4 linked regions of the Homo sapiens genome follow. The gene in region 4 interacts genetically with the main gene of each other region. Each region holds a gene or a part of one and is shown on either strand. Other genes may lie near its edges.

What was found. A genetic interaction does not mean that the proteins touch.
Region 1: changes in XRN2 (region 4) and NCBP1 together harm fitness more than expected from each alone (negative genetic interaction), as found in Homo sapiens cells (one large-scale study listed by BioGRID).
Region 2: changes in XRN2 (region 4) and EIF4G1 together harm fitness more than expected from each alone (negative genetic interaction), as found in Homo sapiens cells (one large-scale study listed by BioGRID).
Region 3: changes in XRN2 (region 4) and CDC40 together harm fitness more than expected from each alone (negative genetic interaction), as found in Homo sapiens cells (one large-scale study listed by BioGRID).

What each region holds. Positions count from the first base shown.
Region 1 is NC_000009.12:97,635,951-97,641,016, reverse strand, and holds part of NCBP1 (nuclear cap-binding protein subunit 1), read right to left. Parts: intron 224-5,066; coding exon 135-223; intron 1-134. UniProt on the Homo sapiens protein: Component of the cap-binding complex (CBC), which binds cotranscriptionally to the 5'-cap of pre-mRNAs and is involved in various processes such as pre-mRNA splicing, translation regulation, nonsense-mediated mRNA decay, RNA-mediated gene silencing (RNAi) by microRNAs (miRNAs) and mRNA export.
Region 2 is NC_000003.12:184,323,736-184,328,801, reverse strand, and holds part of EIF4G1 (eukaryotic translation initiation factor 4 gamma 1), read right to left. Parts: intron 5,023-5,066; coding exon 4,825-5,022; intron 4,602-4,824; coding exon 4,455-4,601; intron 3,925-4,454; coding exon 3,688-3,924; intron 3,534-3,687; coding exon 3,429-3,533; intron 3,323-3,428; coding exon 3,163-3,322; intron 3,107-3,162; exon of another isoform or gene 3,031-3,106; intron 2,952-3,030; coding exon 2,851-2,951; intron 2,276-2,850; coding exon 2,173-2,275; intron 1,922-2,172; coding exon 1,819-1,921; intron 1,587-1,818; coding exon 1,354-1,586; intron 1,217-1,353; coding exon 1,098-1,216; intron 973-1,097; coding exon 800-972; intron 172-799; coding exon 46-171; intron 1-45.
Region 3 is NC_000006.12:110,214,057-110,219,122, reverse strand, and holds part of CDC40 (pre-mRNA-processing factor 17), read right to left. Parts: intron 3,838-5,066; coding exon 3,792-3,837; intron 1,422-3,791; coding exon 1,320-1,421; intron 1-1,319. UniProt on the Homo sapiens protein: Required for pre-mRNA splicing as component of the activated spliceosome. Plays an important role in embryonic brain development; this function does not require proline isomerization.
Region 4 is NC_000020.11:21,386,120-21,391,183, reverse strand, and holds the end of XRN2 (5'-3' exoribonuclease 2), read right to left. Parts: intron 4,317-5,064; coding exon 4,178-4,316; intron 1,912-4,177; coding exon 1,846-1,911; 3' UTR 1,359-1,845; downstream 1-1,358. UniProt on the Homo sapiens protein: Possesses 5'->3' exoribonuclease activity. May promote the termination of transcription by RNA polymerase II.

The DNA.
Region 1 (5,066 bases), on a different chromosome or scaffold from region 4:
AATTTGGGATACAGATGCATGGTAATACCAGCTTTGCCAAAATGTAGTCCAACTTTTCAGCTGCAAAAATTAATCAAAGCACAGTTAACCACATTCTTAAACCCATCACAGCCTGTGCCTATTGTGTGACATACCTTTTCTCCTACTTTACATATTAAAGATTCCAAATGATCTTCAGTTTCATTTGCATCAGAGGTCTTTCTCCTTTTGTGAGGCTGCCCACCTATTTCAGCAACATAAAAAATTAACATTACATGATAAATCTGCTATCACAAATTTTATTTAACCTTTTTAGGTTATAATCTCTTTTCTACCAGGCCCTATGTTTTTACAGAGTAGAAGCTCTTCACAGACCCTCCATTTCTCAGACTAAGCTAGATTAACCAACAGCCTCCCATTCCCAGAGCCACTATATACAATAACTCCAGGAGGCATTATTTATGTTAAATTTTGTGTGAGTAGTGCCCATGGAGCTATGCAATCAGCAGCCCTGTCCATTTCTGTGGACAAGCTGGAAAGCTGCCAACAACATGTTAAACACTAGTAGTTAGAATACTCATGTACCGCTACTCCCATTCTTTTAACTTGAGTTGTTTACTGATCCTCAGTTGCTTGTTCCGAAACCTGTTAGTACCAGTAGTATTCATTAGTCTAATAATGTATTATGTAAATGACAAAATAAGGGTGCAAAACCAAGTCGAATGCTTTGGAAAGACTTGATCAGAAAAAAAAGCTGTCATATCAGCTATAAAGAGGAAAGCTTCAAAAGATGGGAAAAAGGAGCATAAAACATTAGGATTTCTCACTTGCTTCACATGTTTCTAAGCTCTAATCTCAAGTCTTCAATTAACAATTTCAGTTCTGCATATGATGCAGCACAACGGTATAGTTTATCCTAAATAATGGGAACGACAGTCAGTATACGTATATTCAAAGAAAAGTCCTGAGCACTATATCAAAAAATTGGTGGAAAAAAGGACCACGTTTTACAATTCCTGCTTTAACTAGCTTTTATTAACTGAATTACTGATAACTGCTTTATTTAAAAACCATATCATTCGAATAATCTCTATGTTTTTTAAATCTACCATTCTAAAATCATTACCAAGCATCTGTCTTTTTGATTGCTCAACAATTCAAGTTGAATGAAGGTGTGCTAAAAATTAACCTCAAACACCTGTCTATTAAGACCCTTGCTGTTTGTATCTCTTACCACTTTGTTTAAAGCCTTAACACACTCACCTAAGTCCTTTTGTGGTATAACATAAAGCTTAAAAAATTAAAATAATAGTGTTAAGTATGGAACCTGATGCTGCTGCTAAACACTTTGGCTAGTCTAATACAATCCAATTTTCGACTTCCATTGATTCAATTATTTGGTCGGCATATGGACAAGAAAGCAAGAGCCTGTAACTGTGCAGGGAATCGGTATTAATAATGAAAATCTGCAGTTGGATATATGGTTACACAGTAGCAAGTTACATATAACTTCAATCTTCAGATCTGAACAGCCAAAGGAATTATTGTTACAAAGTTCATAATCACTTACTTGCCTATGGAACACTTGGCTTGAAAATGATGTATGGTGATTCTCATAAAACACAGCACCTGGCTATTCTAAGCTTGGAATGTTAAATCTATTGAATGACTGAAATGATCTTCAGATACCACATGAACTGAAGCTGAATAAAACGAATCTATTACTATCCACATAGGATCTGAGGGGGGGTATTATAAAGGTTACAGGGTAAGACACTCTGTACGTCAACTTCCCAACCCATTAATTACCATGATAACCTGACTGAATGTCCACTGACTATAATTTTGAAAGGATAATGCCACAAAAAGTATAATACGCATGCAGCATGAGAGCTGAGATGTATTTATTCCTGGAGATATCTGCCTGTGTAAAGTTGTAGACATGTGTGGCACAGAGGTTCAGGGACCTTGATTCTTAAGTATAGATCAAACCTAAGTCACAGGACCTATCAAGGTTCCACCACCCAAAGTGCCAAATTTCACACAAAGGTCTTTCATTTCCAGGATTCACTTATTGAAAAAAAGCATAATTGATGTAATATTTACGCAAGCTGCCAGCTAGGACATTCAAATAGCCTTCTTCTACAGCAGTAGTTCTCAACAGGGTGTAGATTTTGCCCCCAGTGGTCATCTGGCAAACCTTGGAGACATTTTTAGTAGTCAAAACTAGGGGAAGCAACTGGCATCTAGTGGGTAGGGGCCAGGCATGCTGCTAAATATCTCACGTTGCATAGGGCATCTCCCAAAACAAATAACTGGCCAAGAATGTCAATAGTGCTGATGTTAAGAAACCGTATTCTAGAAAGCAGAGCTCCTCAGAACCAAATTTCAGTGAGGTTGGGAGAATGCAGATGCTGAAAAACTAGCTGAATGAGAGCAGTTATTTTTTGTTGCTGTTTTTTAAACCTTAAGCACACTGTTCCCTTCTTTCTGGCTCATCTATTTTGCCAACCCTTTATTCCACCTCTACAGTCTTCCTAACTTAACTTTCCAGCTGGCTTGTTCCAGTTTGGAATCATACCACAGCCTTTAAAGCAACCCTCCTAGGCCCTCTTATAAGCTTGAAAAGGGGAAAATAGTGCTGTGGGAAGAGAAGGTATGATTTCTGAGAAACAACTAGAAAATACATGTACATAGTCACATCTCTGAACTGCAAACCCTTTGTTCATTTTGGCTATATTAAAGGACAATATTTGTCTGGAGAATGGGAGGAGGCAGAAAGTATTAAGAGGTAAGAAATGTTCCACTTTCACCTGATAGTTGAGAGACTATAAAGGGGTGAAGACTACAGACAAAATCTGAACTTACGAACAGAAACATGATATTGAACTCATAAGACAACCTGGGTAAGGGAACAGGGAAATGAAATAAAACAATACGAATACAATTTGGGGAATTCGCTCAATGTACCCTGAAGAAAACGTATCTATGGTAGTTCCCAAGGCAAGAACAGATTTTTTATTAAAATTTAACTATGTAAAAGTTTTAAAATGTAAATTAAAGATAACATTACCACTTCACTCAGACAGACTTGGCTAGTATAGAGAAGCAGGTATAAAATCCATCTGAAAGGATCTTAATAAACCAAATAAATTTCCCCTCTATAAGTCAATCCTAATTTTATACGGGTACACTGTACATCTTATAGCCTTACAAGAAATTTTAGACCCACAAAATGGAAAACAAAAACCAACCCTGTAAAATAGAAAAGTAAAGTAACTAAAACCAACAACTTCAACATTACGTTTTTAAACCTTAAGCACACTGTTCCCTTCTTTTTGGCTCATCTATTTTGATATTGAACAACTTGAAAGATAACATGCCTTGAGCCCGCAGACTTAAAACAGGCAACCATCACTTCTGAAATAAACTATACTCTCTCAAAATAACAAATCCTTTCACTTCTATTTTTTTCTTTAGTTAAGTAAAAAAATCAGCCACAGTCCAAAAGACAAGGACCTAATTCTAAGAAGCTTAAATGGGGCTAATACAGCAAATCTGAAATTTTTGTAAATTGCCCAAATTCCCAAAATTGTATTCGTATTGTTTCTAGCTAAGATTTTGAACAATCTAAATACTTTCTTAAAAGAACAAACAATGGACTGCATATCCCATAGTAACTAAAAAGCTTCAGAGACATTTTTAAAGCAAGTCTAAGCAATTAGTTAAGATTTAGCACTGGACTAGTATCCATACACATTACTTTCCATTTAGCATTTCCTTTTCCTTGTTTATAAATGGACTACTACATGAACTTCATTGGTATAGCCTCCTAATCCTACCCCCCTTAATCTTTGATAGTCGAGTCTCAACACAGAAGTATAATTTTATAATCTCCCTATAAGATGCAACCCTCTGCTATCTCTCTAATCTTATCTCCTACAACTTCCCCCTCACTCACTCTGCTCCAGCACCACTGGCCTCCTTGCTCTTCTGTTAACATGACAGGAACCCTATAGTCTTCAGGCTTTTGTGCCCATGGTTACCTTTGGATCACAGCTTTTCCCCATACAGCTATATGGCTGCTACCTTACCTCCGGCAAGTCTTTGTTCAAATGCCATTCACACCGAAGCCTTCTCTAATCAACTTACATAAAATAGTAACTTCTCCCTCACAGAAATCTCTCCCCTCTTTACCTGGTATCACTCCATAGCGCCTGTCACTATATGATACACTATACTTTACTTGACTGTCTTCTCTCTACTCTAGAGGGGAGGCTCTATCTTTATATTGTCCACTGCTGTATGGCAAGTAATTAGGACAGAGCTTGGCACTGTTAAGTATTTGTTGAATAAATGATTTTATATATATATATATATATATATATATATATATATATGTATTACTTTCCATATGCTTGCTTCTATATATACAGTATATAATTATATGTAAAATATATATTAGAGTATATATTTATATAAAACTTATAATAAACAAACTTATATAATATATAAATATAAATTTATAATATATAAATATAAATTTATATAATATATAAATATATATAATACATTCTATTATAGTTTATATATATACACACACTCTATATATAGAGAGTCAAGCATACGGAAAGTCAGGGCAGTGACTGACAGCAGCTGACAATTGTCCAGAAATGCTCAGATGCATCTATTTAATTCTGACTGTAATAATTCCTACCCTATTTTAAAATAGCCTTCTATAATCCTTAAGCTTCTAAGATTTATTTTTTAAAAAATAGATTTTTAACTAAAAGGAAAGCATCCAAAATAATCTGATTCAGATCACTGTGTAGGGTAAACTCCAGCGATCGTTATCCAAATTGTGGCAACTGACAAAAATTTCAGATTTGCTGTATTATCAAACATGAATTGTATCTGCCTCTCCCACACTAAAATATCAACCATAAAAACCTTTGCTTAATGAATGCTTTGTTTTACTTGTCTTATTTACTCTGAGGTTCTCGCGGCAAGACCCAAATGGACAGTGATTTGGCTGCCAGCTGGTGTTAAAAACAAGCCAACTCCAAGAAAGTTATGTAAGTCTCCCA
Region 2 (5,066 bases), on a different chromosome or scaffold from region 4:
TCCTCTGGTCTTTACCTCCCCTGAATTCCACCCAGGGGGACTTACCTGAACAGCTCCCCCATGGGCACCCCACCTTCCTGCAGAATGGGTGTTACCAGTTCCGCTAGGTAGAGCCACACGTGGGGGATGTCAATTTCCATGTCCTCAGCCAATTCCAAGATTTCATACAACCTGCCAAGGGAATTCAAAGTCAAGACATTCTAGGCCAGGTCCCCACTCTCCTTCTGGGGCAACGTGGCATGGCTAGGGCATCAACTATGGAACCCCCAGGAACATTTTCTAGACATGGGGACAATTATTTCAAGCTAAGGCCACCTCTGTGTCCTTAGATGGTTTTCACCCCGCTTAACCCCCTAAAGTTATGCTGACCAGGATGGTCAAGGAACCCATACTGTTTTTTGGTTTTTTTTTTGAGACAGTTTTGCTTTTGTCACCCAGGCTGGAGTGCAATGGCACGATCTCGGCTCACTGCAACCTCCACCTCCCGGGTTCAAGCAGTTCTCCTGCCTCAGCCTCCGAGTAGCTGGGATTACTGTGCCACCACGCCTGGCTAATTTTTGTATTATTAGTAGAGACAGGGTTTCACCATGTTGGCCAGGCTGGTCTAGAACTCCCAACCTCACGTGATCCTCTAAGGAATCCAACCCACCTTGGCCTCCCAAAGTGCAGGGATTACAGGCATAAGCCACCACACCCGGCCAGGGAACCTACACTCTTATGCAAGGTTCCAAGGGTCCCAAAAAGGAGATAGAAAATTGTGGGTCTGTATAAGTGGGAGGCCCAGAGAAGCTGGTCATACCCTTGGTAGTACTGAGCAGTAGACAGATGCCCAGCACAGAGCAGCTGGTGCAGCAGCTGCCCCATATGCTCACGAGCAATGGCACTGCGCTCCAGCGTAGACTCGACACCATGCCGTACAAAGATGAAGAGCAAGGAGGGTGAGGCCAGCTCCTGCACGCACTGGACTGCCTCCTGAGGGGTGCAGGGCACAGCAGGAAGAGACCAGTCACTGTCTGACCCAGACCCCGGACCCCTATGCCTGCCAGCATGATCCCTCCCTGCCCACTCCTCAATCACACGCCGCTCCCACTGCCTACTTTCATGTCATTGAGATGGAGATATTCCTCAATGATAGCCTTGGATTTCTTCTCTAACTCCTCCTCAGAGAGAGCCGCCTTCAGGGGGCTCACTGGGGGTAGGGCAGCTTCTCGCTTCACTGTGGGAAGAGAACACAGATTAGAGGGACTTTTCAGTCTTCCCAGCAAACAAGATTTGGAGCTCTCAAAAAGCTGGGGACCAGCTAGTCCCAAGGCAGCCAATGCCTTTCCCTCCATTCCTCTCCCAGACTCTCACCGGCATCCCGCCCACGGTCCCGATCCTCCGTGAGGCTAGCTGCCTTGCGCAGCCCCTCAGGCTGGGAGGGCCGTTCTCTACTCCGCTCCTCCACTTCCTTGCTGAAGCTCCGCTTGGTAGCAGGTGTCCGCGCACGATCAAGCCGGTCCCCACGGTCCCCTCCCCGTTCACTCCGCTCTAGGCGGTCTCCTCGGTCTCCAGCTTTCTCGCCTCGTTCTCGGCTCAAGCTACTCCTGGAAGACAGACAGACAAATTTTCACTCACTTGCACTGCCCAGGCACTCATGTAATTACACAACATGCTGAGCAACTGTTGGGCCTTGTTCTTAGCATAATGAGTATGCCCCAATCTAACCCAAGGGCTCCAACCAGGACAGGTATGAAGAAATTTCCAACCTATGGCAACAACCAGAACCCAATCACGGTACCCCCAGTGTGAATAACAAAGATGTCCAGGAAACCTCACCTCTGCACCACACGTCTATTATCTGTGCTTTCTGTGGGTACCGCTTGTTGAAGGGCTGAGAAGCGATTCAAAGTACTAGTAGCTGGGCGAGCAGCTTCTGATGCTGGGGATGCAGAAAATCCGTATTAAAATCTTTTTCTCCTTTCCTGCATTTTATCCCCTACTTGCCAGTTTAGGACACTTGGTCCCAGTCCCAAAAGTAAAGCAGTTCAATCCCTGGAACCACAACACAAACCTCCTCTATTGCCCGCATTGCCTAACCACCTTGTACTGAAGGCCTCCCTAACAGAAAAGGCTCTGTCCTCAAGGGAGCTCTGACGGGTAACCACCCAGCTCCTGACACTGCCTCCATACCTGCGTCTGAGGGCTTGGCTCCTGAGCCTCCGCTGCTGCCCTTGCCCCAGCTCAGTCGCCCTCCAGGTGCAAAGAGCTGGTTGTTAGAATCGATGGAGCCAGGCTGAAGAAGAAAAGGGGAGTAGAATCATAGGTCCAACCCGGCTGAGTCCCTTGGCCAGCACCACCATATGCAACCAAACAGGTAGTGAATGGCCCAGTCCAGGGGTCAGAAAATCTTTTTTAATAAAGGGCCAGTCTCTATTGCAACTACTCAATTCTGCCACAGTAGCATGAAACCAGCTGTAGATGATAAAGGCATGCTGTGACTGTGTTCCAATAAAACTTCATGGACACTGACATTTACATTTTATTTAATTTCCACAGCATAAATTACCATTCACTTTTTGATTTTTCGCAACTTTAAAATGTAAAAACCACTACTGGGTCCTGGGATGTATGAATGGGCTGGATCTGGCACGTGTGTGTGTGTGTGTGTGTGTGTGTGTGTGTTTGCCAAACACTGGTCCAGACTAATGGGAGTACCACCCTCCCTCTACAGCTGGCAGTCCTGTCTCCAGCAATCCAACCAGTTAGTCTAAGAGGAAACATTCAGCTGTCACCTTCTCAACTTTAGAAAAGTGAAGGGACTAAGATCTAAACCTGAGCTGAATCACCCACTCCCACACACACCCCTACCTTGGTGATCTTGGTGAGTCGTGAGGTGTCAATGGGGCGGCTACCTTTGCTGATGGGAACTGTGTTCCAGCCACCATCATCCACAAGGGGAAGTCCACGGCCTGACACAAAAAGAGGGGCATACTGGAATAATGAATAAATCCTAGCAGCCCCTTCCCCTTGGGCCACCCCCAGCCTCCCTTCCTCAGATCCTCAGTTCCATCATGGTGTCTCAGTGGCCCAGACACGTGGCACTAACAGGAAGTCATCAGAGGAAAGTATAACCTCCCGGTCCCTTCACTGCTCCCTTCTCAATCCCAGCTTGGAACTCACTGATGGGAGGGCCTGGAGGACCGCCCCGACGCTTGTCACTGCCCTTGGCCATGAGCTGCTGCACTTTGATGTGCTCTCGATGTTCTTCCATCTCAGCCTCCTTATGGATCTGGTCAATGGTCTTGGGACCCTGATCCCCTCGGCGTGGCACCCAATTGCTCTGTGGAGACAGAGGGCCAGTCACGATGATGTCAGGGAAGGCAAGACAAGGCAGTGTCAGAAACTGGAGGCAGCAGGCTGGCAGTGGGGAGGAGGGGGACACACACCCCTCGCAGATCCAGCACGTCCTGCAGCATAAAGCGGATGCGGGATGACGTCTTCTTTTCTTTAATGATTTTTTCCATCTGGTTGAAATACTGATCCATTCGGGGCTAGGAAGGAGAAAGGCATCAGACCAGGAACTTCTCATGTCCCACCTATAACTGCAGGCCCCACCCCTCCTCAGGCCTTCCGCCCCATCATTGTGGGCTCAGTGAGCCCCACATATGCTTCAGCCCATCCCCCTCCAGATGCAAGGACCTCTACCTTGGCTTTTTCAAAGTCCAGGTCTTTGCCAATGGTGGTGAGCAGACGACAAAGGCACTCAAGGGACTCTTCATCATGGTTCTTAAGCAGTTTGACCACACAGTCATGCATTATTGCCTCTGTTAACATCTTCAGTTTGAACAACTCTCCAATAAACTTGATATTCCCTAAAGAGCGCCGCCGGGCTATGTCCCGAGCCTCTTCCAGCTCTTCCTTCAGGCGTCCTCGTTCCTCTGCCTGCCATTCACAGGACAGGGATTGTGTCAAAAAGATAACCAGCCACTCGGCTAAAACCCTTTTCTACCTGGATATCCAAACCTAGCAATAAGCACTCAGTCCTGAGGCCGGCTGGCTGGGCATAGTGGCTCATGCCTGTAATCCCATCAATTTGGGAGGCTGAGGCAGGCGGATCACTTGAGGTCAGGAGGAGTTTGAGACCAGCTTGGCCAACATGGTAAAACCCCGTCTCTATTAAAAATACAAAAAAATTAGCCAGGTATGGTGGCACATGCCTGTAATCCCAGCTACTTGGGAGGCTGAGGCAGGAGAATCGCTTGAACTCAGGAGGTGGAGGCTAGCCAAGATCACACCACTGCACTCCAGCCTGGGTGACAGAGCAAGACTGTCTCAAAAAGGAAAAAAAACGTCCTGAGCCAGAGAAATCCCCAAGACACCACTACCTCCATTCCAAATTCTACAGCTGAGTAGCATCTGGGTAAGGGAAGGAGGTAAGTGGTGAGTGGAATCGATAGTGGGTTTTCTCTCACCGTAGCAGCTTCATCCATCTCTTTTTGCTTCTTCTCAAAAACCTCATCATCATCTTTGTCTTTCTCAAACTCCTTCTGACATCGATTCAACAACAGCTTTCGGAAGTTCACAGTCACTGTTGGCTTTTCCGTAGTGGGCACTTTCAGCTGTAGGTCAGAGAGAATGTCACACTCAAGACTAGTCCTGGGCAGGGAAGGCCCTCCAAGAGCCTTTAACTACCTGACCCAGGAAGATCTCTGGCCCCAGCTCTGCCTCCTTCCAGCTGGAAGAGGCACAAGTTGGAGGGGAACCAAGAAGCTGGACTCAAGGAGTCTTGGGAATAGGAATGGGCAACCAGACCATTAGATTTAGAACCCACTGGAAACTAACCGCCATGAGGCAGCGGCACATGTTGGCATAGGCCACAGAGAAGTTGGGCTCTGAAATGGCCTTCTCAAAAATGAGGTCAATGACCCCTTTGAGGCGTTCCTCGGTGTCGATGGCCAGCTGCGTCACTTGCTTCATCAGCTGCTGGAACATCTGGGGTGTCAGTTTATTCAGGATGGAGCGCACCCTGCGGAATAGGTCCTGGAGGGAGAAGAGACAAGAGTTCCAGTGAGGGTCTCAGAACA
Region 3 (5,066 bases), on a different chromosome or scaffold from region 4:
GGAATAGTGCAAGCAATAAAAAAGAACAAACTACTGGTACAAGCCATGAGGGAATCTCAGATATTATGCTGGAGCTAGAAACAAAAGAGAAAAAATGGTATGATTTCGTTTATAAGAAGTTTAAGAAGAGGAAAAATGAAGAGGAAAATGATGACAAAAGTGGTTACTATGGTTACTGGCAGTGGGCACAGACTGGAAAAGGGCATAAGAAACCTTTACTGAGTGCCGCAAATGTTCTAGATCTTGATCTTTGTGGTAGACAACTGCATAGATATGTTTACCAAAAAAAAAAAAAAAAAAATCACTGAATATTTAGGCACTTCATACATTTTACTGTATGTGTATTTTATCTTGATTTTTAAAAGAATCTGCAAAATAGTAGTCTCTCAGCCTTGGCTACACAGTACAATCATCTAGTCTATAGCCATACCAATTATATAAATACCTTTGAAGGTAGGACTCAGGCATCAGTAATATTAAAGCTCTTCAGATGATTACAATGTGTGGCCAGAATTGAGAACCACTGCTAAAGTGCTGAAGAATATGGGCTTTGGCATCAGAGAGAGCTTCGTTTGAACCCAAGTCTGCTACTTATTAGCTGTGTGACCCTGAAAAAGTTAGCTCTTTAAGCCTCAGTTTCCTTATCTATAATATAATAATAGTACTTACCTCATAGGGATAAATTAAGATTGAAGGAGACACTGAATATCAGTGCTTAGCAATTATGCCTGTTAAATGATGTTTAATAAACATTAACTATTATCATTACCCTTCAGATGCAGTAAGGGTAATGACAGTAAGACAATAAGATAGTAAGATAATTTTTATAATTACATAAAATTATACTAGCCACAACATATTAATGTGAATCAATTAATAAACAGCAATTAGTATGGCTGTGAATATATAAAACCAACTGGCCTGTGAAAGTTGAGACCTACATTTTAATCAATTTGCGCAAATACATTTAATTTTGTTCATTAGACATTTATTGCACTTCTGTTATGTGCAATGCACAGTGCTAGGTGATGTAGGGGAACAAAAAAATCAATTAGATGGCCTATACAAGATTTCCACTTTGCTTATTTGTCAGTACGTTTGCTTTATAAAATCTATCTGGTGGAAACAAGTTTCACAGTGAAAGAGCTACTCATGCTCAGTTTCGACTTACAAATGTATTTTGTGATATTTGCTGACAGTGAATGGTATGAGAATCAGCAGTTAGAGAAGGTGCCATTTTGCCACAAAAGACTACTCACACCATTTCAAATATAAATAACTTGTAAGATGAATGTGTATTAGCATAAGTGAACTCTTACCTGTCTCAGTGTCCCAGAGCTTAAGATACCTGTCATAGGCTGCACTGAGGAACTGTGTTCCTGCAGTATTGAAGCAGATATCCCTAACAGCCTTACTGTGACCTAAAGGTGGAGTCAACAGAAACAGCAATGAGGTGAAGTATCATATATCTTCTTCTCTTAAAACATTAACACCATAAAGACAAACAGCACTAAGCAGTGGTTCTCAGCTGTGAGTCAAGATCACTGGAATGCCACCGCCTGATTTACTGACTTAGAATATGTTATGTGTGGGCTTCAGAATGTGGGCGTTTTTTTCCCCTTGAAGAAGCTCCTCAGGTGATTCTGATGCATAACATCTTGGTTAAGAACCAAGAGGAAAAGGTTTAACTTTTCTTTTAAGTCTGCCATAGCAATTACTTAATATGCAGTACATACAAGTGATGACTAGCTAGCCAAGAATTTATGGAAATGTAAAAGACCAATTATTGCCAGTGAAAGAAATGGCTGCTGGAATTTTGGAGGTTCACTCTCAGAATGTCCACCAGGCTGCAAGTGAAAACAAAGTGCCCCAAACCTAAAGTTCAGGAAACTGTAGCCCTTGTTCAATAATTGTATATTTCTGTGATCACATTACCAAATTTCATAGAAACTGATTCAGAATGTAGGAGACTTTCTGAAAACTATATTAGCTTGCATGGTTTTTTATTTTTATTTTGAGATAGGGTCTTGCTCTGTTGCCCAGCCTGAAGTGCAGTGGCTGGATCTCAGCTCACTGTAAGCTCAACCTTCCTGGCTCAAGCGATCCACCCACCTCAGCTTTTCGAGTAGCTGGGATTACAGGTGCACACCACAACGCCTGGCTAATTTCTGTATTTTCTGTAGAGACAGGGTTTTGCCATGTTGCCCAGGCTACCTTCTTTTGCTTTAAGATGATATTTTGATAATACACTAATTTTAAGGTGCTGATTATTATACTTTACTTAAAAATGAATATTGCCAGTTCACTCAACTCTTTTAAAAGTTACAGGGAAAAATAAAATGTGGCTAAACAAAAGCAAAAATGTTCCTATTTTTGCCACCCCACCATGACCAAGACACGTACAATTGTGCAAAATGAGCATGGCACAAATTGTTAACCACATGCAGCAGCTCTAAACCATCACCTCCAGTGAACTCCCATCAGGAGGTACGTGTCATGGTAATTAGGCATCCTTTTCTACAGCTGGAGTCCCAGTCAGAGCTTCTATCATCTCCTTCAGGAGGAAAATTTCAGTTTTCCACAGAAAAATGGTCTGCCAGTAGAGGGGAGACAGATGCGGACCAAATCCACTCTATCTGATGGAGACATTTTGTTCCCCTGTACACAGCTGAGAGCCTTCCACAAGTCTTCCTTTAGGCTGCGGTGACATCTTAGGCAGTATTAATTTGTGCAGGGAGGCCTTAAAATCATAAAGCACTGCTGAACAGACTCCCACTTTAATCTAAAAACAGAGCCACTACGAGTCACACCGTTTCAACGTGGTACAGTTAAATTTGGAATGAGTAACTAGCCTTCACATGAAATCTGACAAAGACAATAAACCTTTCTCTACCAAAAATCTGGTTTGTCACAAAGCTGTCCTCCCTTTGGCCTTCTTTCTTTCTTCAAGGAGTTCTCTCAATCTCATCCTTTTTTTATGCTTTAGCTGTCAATTCCCAGTCTCTCTTCAAAGCTCGACCTCTGGCTATCTAATTGCTTACTGAACATTTTTACCTCAATATCCCAAAGGCAGCTCAAATTTGGTGTATCTAAAACCTTACCATCATCTTATGTTCCTTCTTGGTGAATGGCACCATCGTTCATCCAGCCTCATGGGAGTCACTCTAGATTCCTGTCTCACTGTGATCATTCACATGCCGTTACTAAATCTCACTGACTTTAACTCTAATACGTAGTTCCTTTCTTTTCTCTCTCTGCTGCTTTGGTTCAGGCGCTCATCATCTCTAAACCAGACCTATGAAATAACTGTGTAATTAATTTCCCTTCCTCCAGGCTTGCCCTACCAAATCATCCTGCATATTGCCATTTGATCTTTGTAAACTTCAAATCATGTTGCTTTCCGGCAAGAGCTCTTTAATGGTTCCCCAATGCCCTCACAACAGAGGCTAAACTCTTTATTAATGGCACAGGAGGTCTTCCATACTCTGGTCCCTCTCTTGCTACTTTTCTCCGCTTTTGTCTCTCACCATCCCCCATACTCTGACAATCCTGAAATGTACGTGGATCCCCTCAGCAGCACGCTGTCTCACACCATTTTTGTTTTGCATCCGCTGCTCTTGCTTCCTAGTTCTCTTTCTTTGTCTAACTGGGGACACTGACTCCTCCTTCCAGATTCAGCTGAAATCTATGAAGAGTTTACTTCCTATCGGTGTAGTAAAGTTATTGTCAATGATGTTATCTTACTTTAAAAATTCTTCCCAGATTTATGTTGGAGAGAAAAGAAGCATTACCAATAAATGTTCTCAGACAGCGCCGTTCTCCATAAACCTCCCATAGCTGGGGGAGAAAAAAAACAACACATGGAAATATTACATTTAATAAAGGTCCTTCAATTAATAACAACAGCCCTATGCTGGTTATGTGTGTGCACATCTGTGTGTGTAAACGCACAGCTTCAATCATTAAATATTAAACACTGAATATCATTAAATATAGCTTGGTGCTGCCAGTTTGTGTTATATTATTTGGAACACACACACACAGAGTCACACACGCTCAAAACTAAAGAGTTTTAAAGATATTTACATCAAAAAAGAGACTTAACTATAGATGGAGTTAATTCAGGTAAGTTTTCATTTTCATATTGTTCTTTTCTATTTCATACATTTTCTAGGATGAAAAGTTTCTACTTTTGTAGCACTACAAATGACGTTTAAAGGAATTGTTATTAAAACTGCCATGTATATAACATTTTGATACTGAAAGCCTTTTCTGTTTACTTTTCTGAATAACAAGTATTACAGAAGCTGTAAGAAAATGATGATCTAGACTAAAATAAAAGGCTCATAATTCTCAGCATATCTAAGGTGGATTAATACAATAGCTTCAAGGCTAGCTTTATTCTTGACTGCCTTGAATCCAATTCTCAACAATGTTGCTAGTACTCTAAAATAGAAAGCATTTCCTTGCCACTGGTGCCAATAGGACACAGTCTCAGTTACTGTAGCATACTAGGAAACGACCTCTGAGACCTGGTTTCTTGCTCATGACTGCAATCATTCCTTGTCTCTTAGATGTTATGCTCCAGCAAGCACAAAACTGTTATTTTCAGCACACACCATGCTGATCCATTCTCTTTTCAAGCATACTCTACTCCTGTTTCCTCATCCTTTACTTAGTTAACCAACTTACTAAGGTATGCTTCCTCTTTGAAACCAGCATATCTTGTGCTTGCCTCTATAATAATCATTTATATCATAATAAAATGATCATCCTAAGGGGAGGGACAGTGCCTTTATAAGCTTTTACTTTCAGTCCCCTGCACATAATAGAATGTTTATAGAAGTGAACTAATTGAATTCTATGCTTTTTTGGTTGGTCAAAGAAAAGACCAACATCTCAATTAACATGGTTTGTACAAAGTAAAAGTAAAAGTTAAGTAAAATGGGGGTTTTTACTCCAAAATGTTGGCCTGTCATTTTAAGCTATTAGAGACAAATGCCTAAATGGTTGCTCTTATAAAAAAAAGTGGCCTTTTTTATTGTTAATATCCATGAATTATTTAC
Region 4 (5,064 bases):
TGCGTACAAGTAACTACTTAAAATTGGCCCAACGAATTTATTTTTACATCAGAATTTGGAGGAGATATTTACAGCTTTAAACATTAAAGCTCTGAAAAGCATTTTGCTGATTGAAATGGGCAGGGCATTTTCCTGGAAGATTCAAACGCGGAACCAAGTTGGAAAGAGATGAAGACTAAGGATGGAGAGGAAGAAGCAAGGGTGAGGTCACGGAGCAGGGCCTGAAGCCGGCTCAGCGAGGGAACACCTGCCAGTTCTGCAGAGGAAATCTGCCGTCATCAGTTTCTCCATCAGGCCTTTTGCTCAGATGTCTTCCAAACAGTGCTTTAAACATTCAGTCAAAAACTGAGTCAGTCTCAGGCCAGCTTAAAACTAAGCCAAAACTAAAGGTCTGAGAATATAAAGAGTGGAATTGTGGGTTTTGACTATGAACTATAAACAGTAAAACATTTATAAGCTCCTTTAGAATATGCAATGCTTTACTGAGATGGCTGTCTACATTTTTAATATTTGGGAGATAAACTTACAGAGAAATTTAATAGAAGGCATTATCACTTGAATGTTGAGCGAAGGCAATTATGTAAGGGTTGGGTTGGTAATTCCTGATGGAGAGACTCTTTGTCTCAACAATAAAGGATCCTGCTCTGGTCACCCATCATTAGCAATGAACTCAATAGCTACAAAATACCTTCCTATTCAAGGTTGAGGTGAGATTTTTTTTTTTCCCACAGACTAAGTTTAACAAGCGTGCTTCAGTTGAATATTAAAGCAAAAATATCCTAAGTCAGGAGGTCAAAGAGAAGCTTTACCTCACAATCTTGGGCTAGGAGGGAAAAACTGAAACAAAGCAATAGTCTCTGTATGTGTGTCTAAATATGTTTTGGCAATCAAATGAAAATGCATATGTAAGTGCTGTATGTGAACTCCAAACACACATTTAAGCAATTTATAGTGTACTTAGTAGCAAGGAAAAACATGAGTACAAATTGCAATCTAATGACATACAAAAATATGCTAAGGAGCATAGACTATTTGGCCATTAATTAAAATTGTCAACTTGAAGATTTAAAACAAGTCCTTAAAACTGGAGAAGTCTACATTAAATTTGTAAAAATGTAATTTATCTCACAAAGATTTCTGAGTTAGCCAGATCAGTCACTGACATAATACAACAAAGTTAAAGCTTTTGTTATGTCTTGCTGACCCTATCTTTTAAAATCTACTTCTTCATTGACTTCTTTGTCCTTTGGTTTGGACATCTGATTACAGAAATAGTTTTCTGCAAAAGTTAATTTTAAAAAACCACGCTTGGTCAAGATTTTCAAAGTTGAAATACTGCAAAATAACAACACAAAACAGAGTTTTAAAAGTTTAACTTTATTTTTTTTTACTAAAGTTCAGAAATTTCTGTAAGACAAGTACATTAATGAAATGTTTCCAAAGAAATACTGAACAATATATACTCTAGTTTGCTGAGGTTCCAGCTCGAGTTCAAACCTAATTCTTGTGCAATAAAAATCAGCATGGATCTTAGATGATCTAGAATACACTGTGTTTTGAAATCCACAGCTGGTTTCATTTTTAACCATTATGAAAAACCAGTACTCCTATTCCATCAAATGTGTTTTATAAGCAATAATAAATTCAGATCCACTGTATTATGCAACATACATCTTTGGAAAGCAACATAAACAGTGAGATCAGATCAGTAGAAATATACACAGTTAAAAGAAATACACAAAGTACTGTAGTTTTATTAAAAACTACTACTTGAGAAAGAAATCTTTCCACAAATAGCATAAAACTGTAGAATGATGAAAGGATTTGGGAAAGCTTTACAAAAGCTTAATTCCAATTGTATCTTCCTGAGGGTGGTGGCAAAGGGTATTTCCTTCCTTCTCTGGGATATCCCTGAAAATAAACAAAAGAAAGAGTTTATTTTCTGGACCGATACTCCTGCAAGTCAGTTAACTTTAAACCTCTATGGAAAAACACATCATAAGGAAACTGAGTATGTGTTAAAGGTACAGCACATGGAAAGGCCCCATAAAAGGTGCTTTGATCCAGAGCTTTAATACAGACTTGTTGCAAAGTTGGAGGCTAGCACAAATGCTATTACTGAAAAATAAAACAAAAAACCTTAACAATCACAAATGCACACAAATAACTAAAGTGTTCTGTGTAAACAACATGTACAGACAGTGGTTCTCAATTTTCTCACTGTCCTAGCAGTAGTAATTCAAGTCACTTTGTGGTAAGATACCCACATCAATTTAGACTTATTACACAAGGAAAGTAACTTTGCTTTAACCAAGGCAAGAGCTTGCTAAGTCAGTTAAGGCCAAATGAGCAATTGATTTTAGGGATTTTTTATTTAGCAACAAATAGTAGGGCTTTAAATGACATATTAAGGTTATTACACAATCCATTAGCCGTGACCTTTATAACATATCCTAGTATGTTTGCAAATAACATTTCTGTATAACAAAAGATAAACCTGACACCTCTTCATTATAAGTCCTTTCCTAGGCCTCTAGGGTTTTGAAATGGAACCCCCTCCCACCTCATTTTGCCACCCAGAGAGCACTTCAGTACTTTAAACATGAACATGTGCAGACTCAAGGCCAGAATGCAGGCTAAGGCCTTGTTTGGTCATATAAAACTTTACTAAAAATACAATGAAGTAATGATTCTATGTTTTTAACAACAAACTTCTGCAATTTAATAGTGCTTCAACAATTGTGATTTAATAAAAAGTATCTCCCTGGCAAAGGGACTGAGAAAGAAGAAATGTTATTTTCAAAAAGTCCTAAAAGAATAATAAATTTACCAATTGGTTTATATCTTCTAAGTAAATAAGAATTTTACCTCCTGTAACAGCACAGAGTTCCTTTAAAAGGAAGATCTCCAAAGGAGAGAGGAAAATGGATGAACTGGGGTCAGCAGTCTAGGCAGCCAGCTACCAGTTCTCCTGCTGAACCGTGTGGGGTTTTCAGGGTTTCAGTTCCTGACTTGGAAAATGAGGTGACTAGACTACACATTCTCCAAGGTTTCTTCCAGTTACAAATAGTCCTCACTTCAAAAATGCTCATCACTGAAACGGCCTAGTGCCATCTAACCATAGTAACATAAAGAGCCTTAGTTCACTGACACGATTTTTAGAGGTCCTGGGCTGAAAGAATTCAAAGCAAAATTCGATAAACTGATTCAAATAAACTGTAACAAAATCTCAGAAGAAATTATTTGCAATTAAGGTGATTATCTTCTTGTAAGGTGGAGATACTTGTAAGAATACATCAAAAAACATACAAAATATGTTCCTTAGCTGTGAGAAGAGAGGTCTTACTAATTAATATGTGAAGCACTGCAAAAGGCCTGGAGGCAACACCAGGTAAGCAATTTAAAAACCACTTCACATCACTGCAGGTGCCAAACTCCATACACATTACTCTGAATCACAGCATTCTAATCTTGTTCTCTAGTAAGGATTCCATTAAGAGCATGTAAATACTGGCCAGGGTGTCAAATTGCTGGAGGAAATTATGTCAAATAGACCTCAGTCTTAAATGCTGCTAAAACTGGATGCTGTAAAGAGAAGGACATGAAGCTTACATATACTAAATTTGTCTAGGAATTATGATAGTCATTCAGTGATACAGCTGCTTACATTGAGAAGAAAAATATGTGGAAGATTATCAAGCAGAAATTTCTTTTATGAGGAGGGATATCAGATGAATCAAGGCAGGAGACTTCTAAAATGACAACATTGTAAAATGACTTCTAAAAGACAACAGCTGAAAAAGCAGACTTACTTTCCAGCTTCCAGAAAATCATCACCCATTAAGAGGGATCTAGGTTCTATTGAAGAACAATATCCTTAAAGGAAAAACAATGTGTTTTGGTGACTGACTATACTTGGACTAATTATCACTGACTGCTATGATTTAAAGGGCTTTTGGGTTAGAAATTCTTTGGCATCTTCAAGGTATATAACCTATTTAGTGAAGCAGGTACTCAACCCATATACATTTTTAATGACAGACCCAAGTTCAGCCAAGCTACTCTAAGCTACTCTATCAGTGTCTTCTCCAGAAATGTTGGTAAGAAAATACGGAGTCCTGTGAGGCTTGTTGAAATATAAAGTGAGCAGTATACTTTTCATCCCACAACCATTTACCTGTCTCCCTCCACGATCATCTCGTCTGGGTGGATACCCACCAGGCCCAGCTAGCATCTGGTACTGGTTTGGCTGGAAGGCTGCATTCTGGGTTTGCAGCATCCGGTTCCATGGGAGCAGAGGTTCAGCCCCAACGCCTCTGTAGGAAAGTACCAGTTTTACATCAGAAGCCACACCTATTATACAGCACAAAGCCTAAAATCGGCAGGTATCATCTCCAAATTTTAGTACAATCCAATTTACCTGGATTTATCATATGGGATACAGAGTATCAGAATGGCCTTTGTGTCCCTTATATCCAGTATAATCTAACATGTTTCATGAAGCATCAGCATTTATTACAATGGATGTTTAAACTCAACTGAGAAGTTCTGACTTTTAAAAGTTATTTTGTTCATTTTCAATTGGGAAATTTCCTTTTTAGTCACTTAAAGATGTAGACCCAAGATCACCAAGATGGCTACATTTAAGATGCTATCCAAAGAGTAAACATGTACAAGACAGGAGAATGAGGCTTTATTTTCAAAAATGTCCAGACTCGTTCTTGGATCCATTCTTTCTACTTAATTGCAGGTTGCAAATGAATTCTTACTGCTGAGTATTTTGAATCCAGGGTAGGAGACTTGGCTGTTTTTTCCCATCCATTATTCTGTTCAATATGTCAGAAGGTCTGATTGGGAGGAAACCTTTTCAAGTTCTATTGATGCAGCTTTCAATTGACCACGGTGACCTAGCAACATGAGCACTAATTGGCATGGGCTGACTGGCATTTGGTGTACAGTTTACATGGGAACACAGATTCAACGGCTATTATAACCCAGTTTGCTGTCGCAGATTACTAGTCGAAAGAAATGTTTTAATTGTCTTCAAGTGACTATTTTAACTTT